Homo sapiens: one gene and its partner. The protein of the gene in region 2 interacts with the protein of the main gene of each other region in a biochemical or structural test. Each region holds a gene or a part of one and is shown on either strand. Other genes may lie near its edges.

Region 1 (4,700 bases), on a different chromosome or scaffold from region 2:
TTTCACTTTCCAGCTGTTGGACCTCAGGAGAGATGCTGCTATTTTCAAGCTGAGGAGGAAGGAGCTACCCCACAGTCCCTGAGTCAGCTCAATTTAGTGAAAACACTAATGATGAAAATGGCATGGCTCTGGGCCGGGCACGGCGGCTCACACCTGTAATCCCAGCACTTTGGGAGGCCAAAGTGGGTGGATCAACTGAGGTCAGGGGTTCAAGACCAGCCTGGCCAACATGGTGAAACCCTGTCTCTACTAAAAATACAAAAAATTAGCCTGGCGTGGTGGCGCATGCCTGTAATCCCAGCCCCCAGGAGGCTGAGGCAGGAGAATCGCTTGAACTCAGGAGGCAGAGGTTGCAGTGAGCTGAGATCACACCCCTGAACTCCAGCCTGGGCGACAGAGTAAGACTCTGTCTCAAAAAAAAAAAAAAAAGGGCTCTGCACAGCCTGGATGCTCCCAGCATCTTCACTGCGACTGTGAGGTGAGGACTTTTGTATGCCCCACTCTACAGGGGGATGTAGAGGCACTGAGGCACAAAGGTGAAGGGACTTGCATAGGGCTGCTGGGTTAGAGAGTCACAGAGCCAAGCTGTGGGCCTGCTAGGCTTTCCAACCACCCTGGAGGAAGTGAGCTGCCCATCCTGTGGAGGTATTCAAGTGGACTCAGTGCTGGGTAGAGGGTATGGCTATGTGTTGGGGCCCACCTTTGTTATCTGATAAAAGAAAATACATGGGTAGGTGTGGTGGCTCATGCCTATACTCTCAGTGCTTTGGGAGACTGAAGTGGGAGGATCACTTGAGGCCAGGAGTTGTAGACCGGCTGCCCTCCCCCACCCCCCCTTCTACAAAAAAATAAAAATTAGTGGGGTGTGGTGGCGCATGCCTGTACTCCCAGCTGCTCAGGAGGCTGAGGTGGGAGGATCTCTTGAGGCCAGGAGTTTGAGGCTGTAGTGAGCCGTGATCATGCCACTGCACTTCAACCTGGGTGACAAAGGGAGAACATGTATCAAAAATAATAATAATAATAAAAAAAATAAACAAAAACGCATTGAGCCAGGCACGGTGACTCAGACCTCTAATCCCAGCACTTTGGGAGGCCGAGGTGGGTAGATCGCTTGAGCCTGGAGTTTGAGACCAGCCTAGGCAACATAGTGAGACCCTATCTCTGCAAAAAATTTAAATAAAATTAGCCAAGCATGGTGGTAGGCGTCTGTGGTCTCAGTTACTAGGGAGGCTGATACGGGAGGATTGCTTGAACGCTGGTGGTTGAGGCTGCAGTGATTCCTGATCACGCCACCGCACTCCAGCCTGGGCAACAGAGTGAGACCCTGTCTCAAAAACAACAGCAACAAAACATTGATGGCCTACTCCGAGGCAGGCTTCGCAGTAAGCACTGGGTGAAGACCAAGGAGAGCAGCTCACATTTATTTACCCCTGAACCATCTCTATGGGCCATACCCGAGGGTAGGGACCTCCTTCAACGCCTCGGAGGAAATTGTCTGCTGAATGAATGAATGAGCAAACACGTGGAGGACTGGGCCGGGACGCCCATTTAGAGACTAGGACACAGTCCCAGGGCGGCCCGAAGTCACGGAGCAAGATCGAATCGGAGCCGATTCCAACTAGAGCCCTCTCCAAAGACCGTCTGCCGCTCTATCCGGGGATCGCGACACCCATTTTCCAGGCGAGGAAACTGAGGCCCTGGCCCTGCACCTCCCCCGCAGGGGAGGCCCTCGCTGGGCGGGCGGGGTGCGAGTAGGGGCCGCCCCTTCTAGGGCCTGCGCTCGGCGGGGTCCGCGAGCCGGCGGGTGGGCGGGGAGCTGGCCGGGGGCGGCGCGCGGCTGGAACCTGAGCCGGCGGAGGAGGGACCCGCGGGCGGACGGGCGCCGGGCGGGCCGGCCGGGATTCAGGAAGCGCGGATCTCCCGGCCGCCGGCGCCCAGCCGTCCCGGAGGTAAGTGGGGCCCGGGCCCGGGAGGGGCGGCTCAGCCGAGGTCCCCTCGCGCCCCTGGGGACATCTCCGTGGCCCGTCCGGCTCCGGGGGGTCCCGAGGCTCCAAAATGCGGGCCAGGGGCGCGGGAGACGGAAGGCACCAGGTTCCGCAGGCGCCAGCCTCTCAGCTAAGTGCCCTTGGGCCGGACACCGGCTCTTTGGGTCTCGGTTTTATCACCTGTGAAATGGGCACCAACGTGGGGCCTGGGGTAGCAGGTCTGGGGGGAGGGCGGTTCGGTTCCCTGAGACCCCAAGCCAGGGAACCAAAGGCCCGGAGCCTTGCAGCCCACCTTAGGAGACTTGGAAGAGGGATTTCGGGGGACCTAAGGTTTGCCCTTGGCCCCTGAGCATGTCGGAGGGAATTTGGAGTCTGGAGCTTCCAAAGGCTTCTTCTTGGTTACTGAGTCCCGGAGAGACGGCTGTTTCCTCCAAGAGGCATGAAAATCTTTAACCTCTAGTTCTGCCCTGGACTCTCAGGACGTCCCGGGGGCGGGTGGCTCCTGGGGGTGGGTAGCGGGGGTGGGGGTGGGGGAGAGAGAGACTCCCACACTCCCCGCTTGCCTGGAAACACCAACCACAGATGCATTCATCGAGCCACCCACTGCTCCAGCCTGCCCCAGCTGTTCCCTCTGTCTGTCCTCTCTGTTTTGCAGATGGGGAAACTGAGGCTTAGGTCGGGGATCTAGACAATTGGGATTTAAACCCAGGGACTATCCAGCCCCAAAGCCCTTCCCACCACACCAGGTGGCCTGTCCTGGGGCCAGCTCTGCACACAGGGCCTGGTGCCCCCGGGGTGCTTGGGAAGTGGCAGGGCAGAGGTGGGCCCTGTGGCTGTTCTGGCTCAGCTTCTAAAACAAGAGCCTCTGCTGGGGGCAGAGGGGCCGTGAACCCCTGAAATGTTAGGCAGATACCCTGTGGGAGCTTTGTTCTGGGATGCTAAGAACCGCTTGAGGATTTAAGCTTTGCCACTTTGGCTCCGGAGCAAGGGCAGAGGGTAAGTCGGGACTCCCCGGGCTCCTGAGGAGGGTGACGAGGTGGGCTTTTGGGGGAACAAGGGTAGAAAGGTCAGGCCTGGGTTATCTGCGGGGCTAAGAGCGGGCCTGTGTGGGGCCCGGGGTGTGCTCTGCAGTCCCCTGCTGTGTGACCTTGGCCTGGTCCCTTAGCTGTCTGAGCCTTTGTGTTCTCTCCTCTGTAATACTGGGGTGCCTGAGGGCAAGCCCCCAGGGCTGTCGTGAGGACCGATGACCTTCCAGGAACCTGGCACAGCCACTGTTGGCTGCCATCAATGTTTAACCAGTTGTCGTTGCCCCAAACATTTTCTTAACAAAGAGGGTGAAAAAAGTCAATTGGCCATTTCCACATTTCTCTAGTTCATTCTGTTTGAAGAATGATGGGAACCAGAAAGCCTGGACACCCACCTTGATTGGTGAATTGCACGCGGAAGGGGTCCCAGACACAAATGGCAAATGGCAGTCATAGTTCAGGGCGGTTCACTTTGTAAGATCAAGGTGGGGCTGTTTTGAAATGGAGGTAACCAGGGAATGGTTGCCTGAACAAAAAGGGTGTGATGCCCCCAGGAGGGATGTTTCACATGAGCTCCGGTGAGGATGGCTGGGATTCCCCAGGTGAAACCCAGATACCTTATATCTGGGGAAGGGGCTGTGGAGGTTCCTCCTGCCTTATCTGGTGCCAACTGGGCCTCTGCCACTTACTCCCTCCTCCAGCAAATGCTCTCTGCAAGCTCACCTGTGCCAGCTCTGGGCTGGGCACTGGAGCAGTGAGATGCTTCCAATCCCAGCTTCGCTGTAGCCTGAGGCGTGTGAAGGCAAGAAGGATTTTCCCTTGTGGCCCCCCGGGGAGGAGCTCCCACACCTGACTTGTGAGCATCTAGCAAGGTGTGCATGGATGGCCGACGCTTAGTAAATGTATGCTGTGGAATGGATGGGGTCAGGGGAGAATGCCGTAGGGTAGGAGGACTGGCCCAGGAAGGACCCACGAGGGCTTGGTCAAGGTAGTGTTTAAGCCGCACCTTAAAGAATAAATGCAGAAGTAGAGGAAAGAGTATTCAGGCAAAGAGAATGGCACTAGCAGAGATATGACTTTTACCTGTTACCAGGTGGCTACACCTGGGGTTTATAGAGCAGAGAAATAGTTCTGTTTGTCTGGAGTTTGTGACGTGACTGGAAAGGGTGAGGGATCAGACAGGCAGGAGCTAAATCAGACCCAGAGGCCCAGAAGTCCTGCCTGGGAGTGACACGGTTGTTTGTCTGTTCTAGAAAGGTCCCTGTGGCTGCAGAGTGGGAAAGATTGGAGGAGCTCAGACAGAGAGGCTGGCCCCAAGGCTGGGGAAGTCATCCAAGCTCTGAGTGGAGAGCGGCAGCTGGAAGGAGATGTAGGAGGGAAGGAAACACACAAGACTGAGCCTCATGTGCCTGGCACATAGTAGGTGCTCAGTCAGTATCTATGGCATGGTTGTCTGAACAAATACTTTTGAGATGGTCAAAGTCCTTTGAGTTCCTTCCTCTGTTCCTAGGGGGATGGGGTCTACATGAAGTGGGTGTCTCTACTCCATGCAGGCCCTTGACCCTGCTGTCTGCCTCAGTTTCCCCCATTTGACTTTGGGAAAGACACTCCAGTCCGTTCTCCAAATTATAGGGACCCAGGTAACAGCTCCTCTTGTTGTCACAGATAGGGTCTGGGGAGCCAAGATAAC
Region 2 (4,636 bases):
AGCCTCCCCAGCCCCCTCCCCCAGCAGGCGTCCTCCAGGGCCTCCAAGGAGCCACCAGGCCCGTGCTTCCCGTCTCCCTGTCTCCCTGATGAGGGTGAGGTGCCTGTTGGCAGCCTACACACCTAAGCAGGCTGGGTCTCAGGGAGGGAGGAGAGCTACTCCACATGGGGCCTGTTTAGGAGCCTGGGGACTGTGAACCAGCCAGTCGCCCCCATGTCACTGGGCCATGCGGTGTTCTCCTTGCCCAACCCTCTGGCTGGCCTAGGTGGTGAGAAGTCTGCCATGCTTCCTAGAGCGGGGCTCTCTTATCTGCATCTCCTGTCTAGCCCAGAGCAGCAACAGTCCCCAATGCGCCCAGCACTGTGACCAGAGAGCCCCACTGGTCTCCTATTGCTTGTTTGACAGACCTTCCTCGTTCGCAAGTTCTGGAGTCAGAATCCACAGGGAGAAGTATTCCTCAGCCCTGCTCCCCTTAGGAAGGCTCTGTGACCCAGGGAGTCTCAGGTGCCCCCAGCCACCGACAAGCCCAGGGCAGGGATGGCAGGGTCCCCAGTAGCACTGGTTTGTCAGGGTGGGGTTGGGTGGGTTGGGCTCTATTTTCTCCTGCTTGCTGCTTTTCCCATGCAAAACACTCAGTTCTAAAACCTAGTGGCCAGCCCAGCAAACTCCTTGAGGGACCAGGAAGCCCAGCTGTGTCCCTTCTGCTTCTGTCCACAGTGCCAAAAGCCCAGCCCTATGGCCAGAACTCAGCTCTGTGCTCAGGGCTGCTGCACGGCTGCATCTGCTACAGCTGGCTACCCCACAGCCCAGGGGCTCCACCCACACTTTGAGCAGCAGAGTCACCAAGAGTAATTCTAAACTCACAGAACAGTGACAGGGAAGAAGAACTTGCACACTTGGGGACTCCCCACTGTCCCCAGCACCTGGGAGTGAGTTTGAAGGGTAACTAGCCTTGGCCAGCCACCCTGGGCAGCAGACAGAGAGCAAATGGCCAGAATGAACAGGACCTGGAGGGGCCCACTGCCATCCCACAGCCACATCCTCCCCAGCCACTTCTCTGGCCCAGGCCCAGGGCCTTTCAACTGGTGAAGGGTTAATTGGAGGCAGCCTGAGAAGGCAGAGGGCAGGTTCCACTTCCTTTGCTGATGAGTGGCTCTGCCCATTAGCTGCCCCTGCCTGCCCCTCCCCCAGGTGTATTTCCAGACTAGGGATTAACAGTAACTTCTGTGGCTCCCTGAGTGACCCCACTTGGCTTCAGCTTGCTTGCTTGCTTTTTTTTTAAAGATGTGCTGTGGCCTTTGGGCCAGCCACTTGAATGTTATGGGAAAGCCCAGGAGCAGGTGGAAGATTCTGCCCTGGACACTGAAGGGTCCCACTGCGGAGGCACTATCCCATCGTCCCAGGGAAACTTGTCTAGACGCTACTTCACCTCCGTCCCCTAAGGGGGGATGTGACCCCCCTCTTACCTCTGGGCATGACCTTCAGCACATTGCTACCTTCCCTCTCTGCCCTCAATTTTCCTAAGGGAGGTGAGCTCCAGGATCTCTGCAGGGCTTTTGAACTCAGTGTTTTCTGCTAGCTTTGAGCACTTTGGAAGGATGATGTTAGAGAACTTGTGAGAGGAGCTTCTCTTTGAAGGTGTTGAAATGAGCGTGTTTGGATACAGTCCCCTGTTGATGGGCAGGTGGGCAGCCAGGAGGGCATGTTACCTGGCCCGCGGACCATAGTCCCCACTGTCCCAGAGCCTTGGCCAGGCCTGCTGTGCTTGGAACTGTTTCCAAGCCCAGCTCCTCACTGTCTCCATGTTCCCATCTCCAGGGGCAGGCTCCTGCATGGACGGCACTTTACATATAAAAGTATCACAGGTGACATGGCCATCACGTTTGTCTCCACGGGAGTGGAAGGCGCCTTTGCCACTGAGGAGCATCCTTACGCGGCTCATGGACCCTGGTTACAAGTGAGAAGGCCCTTTTTCTTCTCCCTCCTTCCTTTCATAGACTTCCTTGCCCACCCCTCCTCTTCTCCCTTGGCAGCTCTTGATGGCACCCCTTCCTGGGGGGCTGGTCATGAATGCCTCATGGATTCAGGGCCTGGGGCCTGTGTGTAGGTATGGAGTGTGGATGCTGCTACCCACTCCAGCAGCTTAGGAGCACTTCCTGACCTTCTCCCCCTGTCACCTGAGACACAAGTGTTAACTCTCCAGGCCCTGGCTCTTGGTAATTCTGGTTCCCCGTGGAAATCCAGGTTGGAGGGATATAAGACTTTCTGCACCTTGGGTAAACCAAGGTACAAGAACTCAAGGATGAAGCAAGATGGGAGGATGTGTGGAGGCCACTCTCCAATGGCTACATGGAAATCCCACCAGAATTCAGACAGTGGCATGTGTGCCTGGACCAGGGCTGGGCAGGCCTCAGTGGGAAGAGCCTCCCCTTCTTAGCCTACCCCCATCTGACAGCCCTCCCGTTCCTCCTGAGTTTGTGTGACCAGAGACCTGCTGGCTTATCCGGAGCACTTTGTCCTTCCTTTGCTCTTCTGGCTGGAGCGAGCTTCAGAGCTGTTGCCAAGCAGGGTACCAGGGCCTCAGAGCCATAGGCCTCCTTCCAGTCCCCACCCCGTCCCGGGTCTCTAACAGGTGCTCAACCTACTCCACCACACTCCCGAGTGTCTTGGAGGGACAGCATCCTTTTTTGGCATTTGTTTGTTGCGGGTGGGGAGAGGATTGAACCCTTAACCTCACCTCGCTCGCAAGTATCAAGAAAGGGAACCTGACCCTAAACCTAAAGGTGGCCATACCTGGTTTGTGAATGTATTGGAGAGGCATGCAGCATTACAGTAGAGGGGAAGAGAATGATGCTAGGTTTGTGAGTTTCACCCAGTCTGGGGAGTCTGTGAAGCATATGTAGTCAATACAGACACACTTTTTGTCCCTGCATGTCTACAGAATTTCTCCTCCTTCAGGCCAGGCCCCTCTTCTCCCGCCACCACCAAAATACAACCCTTAATTAAAACAAACAGCAAACAAAGGACACCAACCACACTCCCCAGACTAAGCCGAGATAGAAATGGAAGCTAGTGCTTTAGGGATATTGTGTTCCATAAATTATCTTGCCTTTTTCCACTGTTGTTATTATATCGTTTCATAACAAAATTACTTTGAACCATAAAGTTATAAATACATTTTAAAAGTCCCACTTGGTAACATTAGATTTCTGTCCATGTGGTGTTGGTAGTTACTGTAACAAAAGCTCTGAAGTGTAATATTTGAAATTAGCCCAGCACAAGTGGAAAGGGCCTCCCTCCATTCCCTACCCCCAGCCATGTCCCGGGCTGCTGCGTCTGCCCCTGTGGAGAACAGGGAGGGAGCAGGCCTGTCTCCTGGGCGGAGCTGCTGAGGAGGCTGGAGGTAAGGACAAGCCCCTGAGAGTTCACAGGTCATCATTCCCAAGTGTCCTCAGGTAGCGTGTGTGTGTGTGTGTGTGTGTGTGTGTGTGTGTGTGTGTGTGTGTGTAATGTTCAAGCACGTTTTCCTGGGACAGTCGGGACTGGGGCCTCCCCAAACTGCAGAATCTACCCAGTTATGTTTGACATCCTCAGCTCTGAACCTATCCTCGGAGCTCTGCCCTCCCGTCCTGGAACGTCTTTCTGCCCTGAGGAGAGGGTAGTCAGCATCTCCAATTTTCAGCAGCTCAAGAACCTTGGCCCCCACAGGACTTCGCAGATGTCACATTGCCCCTCAGTCCCCTGAATGCCCTTCGGACCCAACCCCAATTCCCCAAGCCCCTGACCCCCTAGCTGCCGGGGTTCCCACTCCCAGTGCCACAACCCCCTCACCTCCCTGGCAGCCCCTCAGCGAGCCTGAGGCCCAGCACCCGCTGGCTCCCCAGCACATGGTCCCCTCCCATGGGCTGTTGCCCAGGGAACCGGGGCGCGGTGGGAACGAGCTGCTGGCCTCGGCATGTTTCAATAAAGTTGCTGTGCTGGGAGCTACTCAATCAAAGGCCTGTGTTATGGGCTCATTAGTGTGGTCCACCACGGGGCCGGCTCACAGGAGAGCTCCTGGGAAGGCTGGCGGAGGCCCCACACCCCAAGCACCCACCCTTGATCACCGAGGGGTTTCTCAGGCCCTTTCCAAGGAGCCCTGGGAAACCCTCTGACCCTGCCCCCAGCCGGATTCTCAGCAGTGGAGCCAACACCCACACCAGCCCTCCTCCCCCTGCCAGGCAGTCAGCACTTTCTCCCTCTGACTGCCAGCCAGCCGCCCCTGTTAGGGTCCTGCCACTGTGGTCACAGGCAGCTCCCTTGCTTGTGGGAACCTGGGCTTGTAATTACTTGTGGGCCTCTAGATCTCCCTCTGGGGCTGGCTGTCTCCCTGGGAGTCTGCAGGACCTCCTAGAGGCCTGGGGTTAGACTTGCAGTCGCCAGTGAGGGCCACTCCACTGGGCCAAGGAGAGCCATAGGTCCCTCAGGAGGGGACCCCAGCACAAAGAGGCCCACCCTTGCTCCCTGCAGGCATCTCTTGCTCGCACCCCCAGGGTTCCGAGGTGTCTTCTTGGGCCTTGTGTGCCCAGGCCTATTGGAGGCAGAGGAGTAGGAAGGAGTGAAATCCAATAGACCCAGGACATGACGAGACCCAGTC

What was found. The genes of interacting proteins can lie anywhere in the genome.
Region 1: the proteins of SUFU (region 2) and TRPV4 interact in a test that uses a peptide from one of them, tested with the Homo sapiens proteins (one large-scale study listed by BioGRID).

The regions. Positions count from the first base shown.
Region 1 is NC_000012.12:109,830,599-109,835,298, reverse strand, and holds the start of TRPV4 (transient receptor potential cation channel subfamily V member 4), read left to right. Parts: upstream 1-1,900; 5' UTR 1,901-1,949; exon of another isoform or gene 1,950-1,951; intron 1,952-4,700. UniProt on the Homo sapiens protein: Non-selective calcium permeant cation channel involved in osmotic sensitivity and mechanosensitivity. Activation by exposure to hypotonicity within the physiological range exhibits an outward rectification.
Region 2 is NC_000010.11:102,615,472-102,620,107, forward strand, and holds part of SUFU (suppressor of fused homolog), read left to right. Parts: intron 1-1,818; coding exon 1,819-1,957; intron 1,958-3,594; coding exon of another isoform or gene 3,595-3,600; exon of another isoform or gene 3,601-3,997; intron 3,998-4,636. UniProt on the Homo sapiens protein: Negative regulator in the hedgehog/smoothened signaling pathway. Down-regulates GLI1-mediated transactivation of target genes. Down-regulates GLI2-mediated transactivation of target genes. Part of a corepressor complex that acts on DNA-bound GLI1.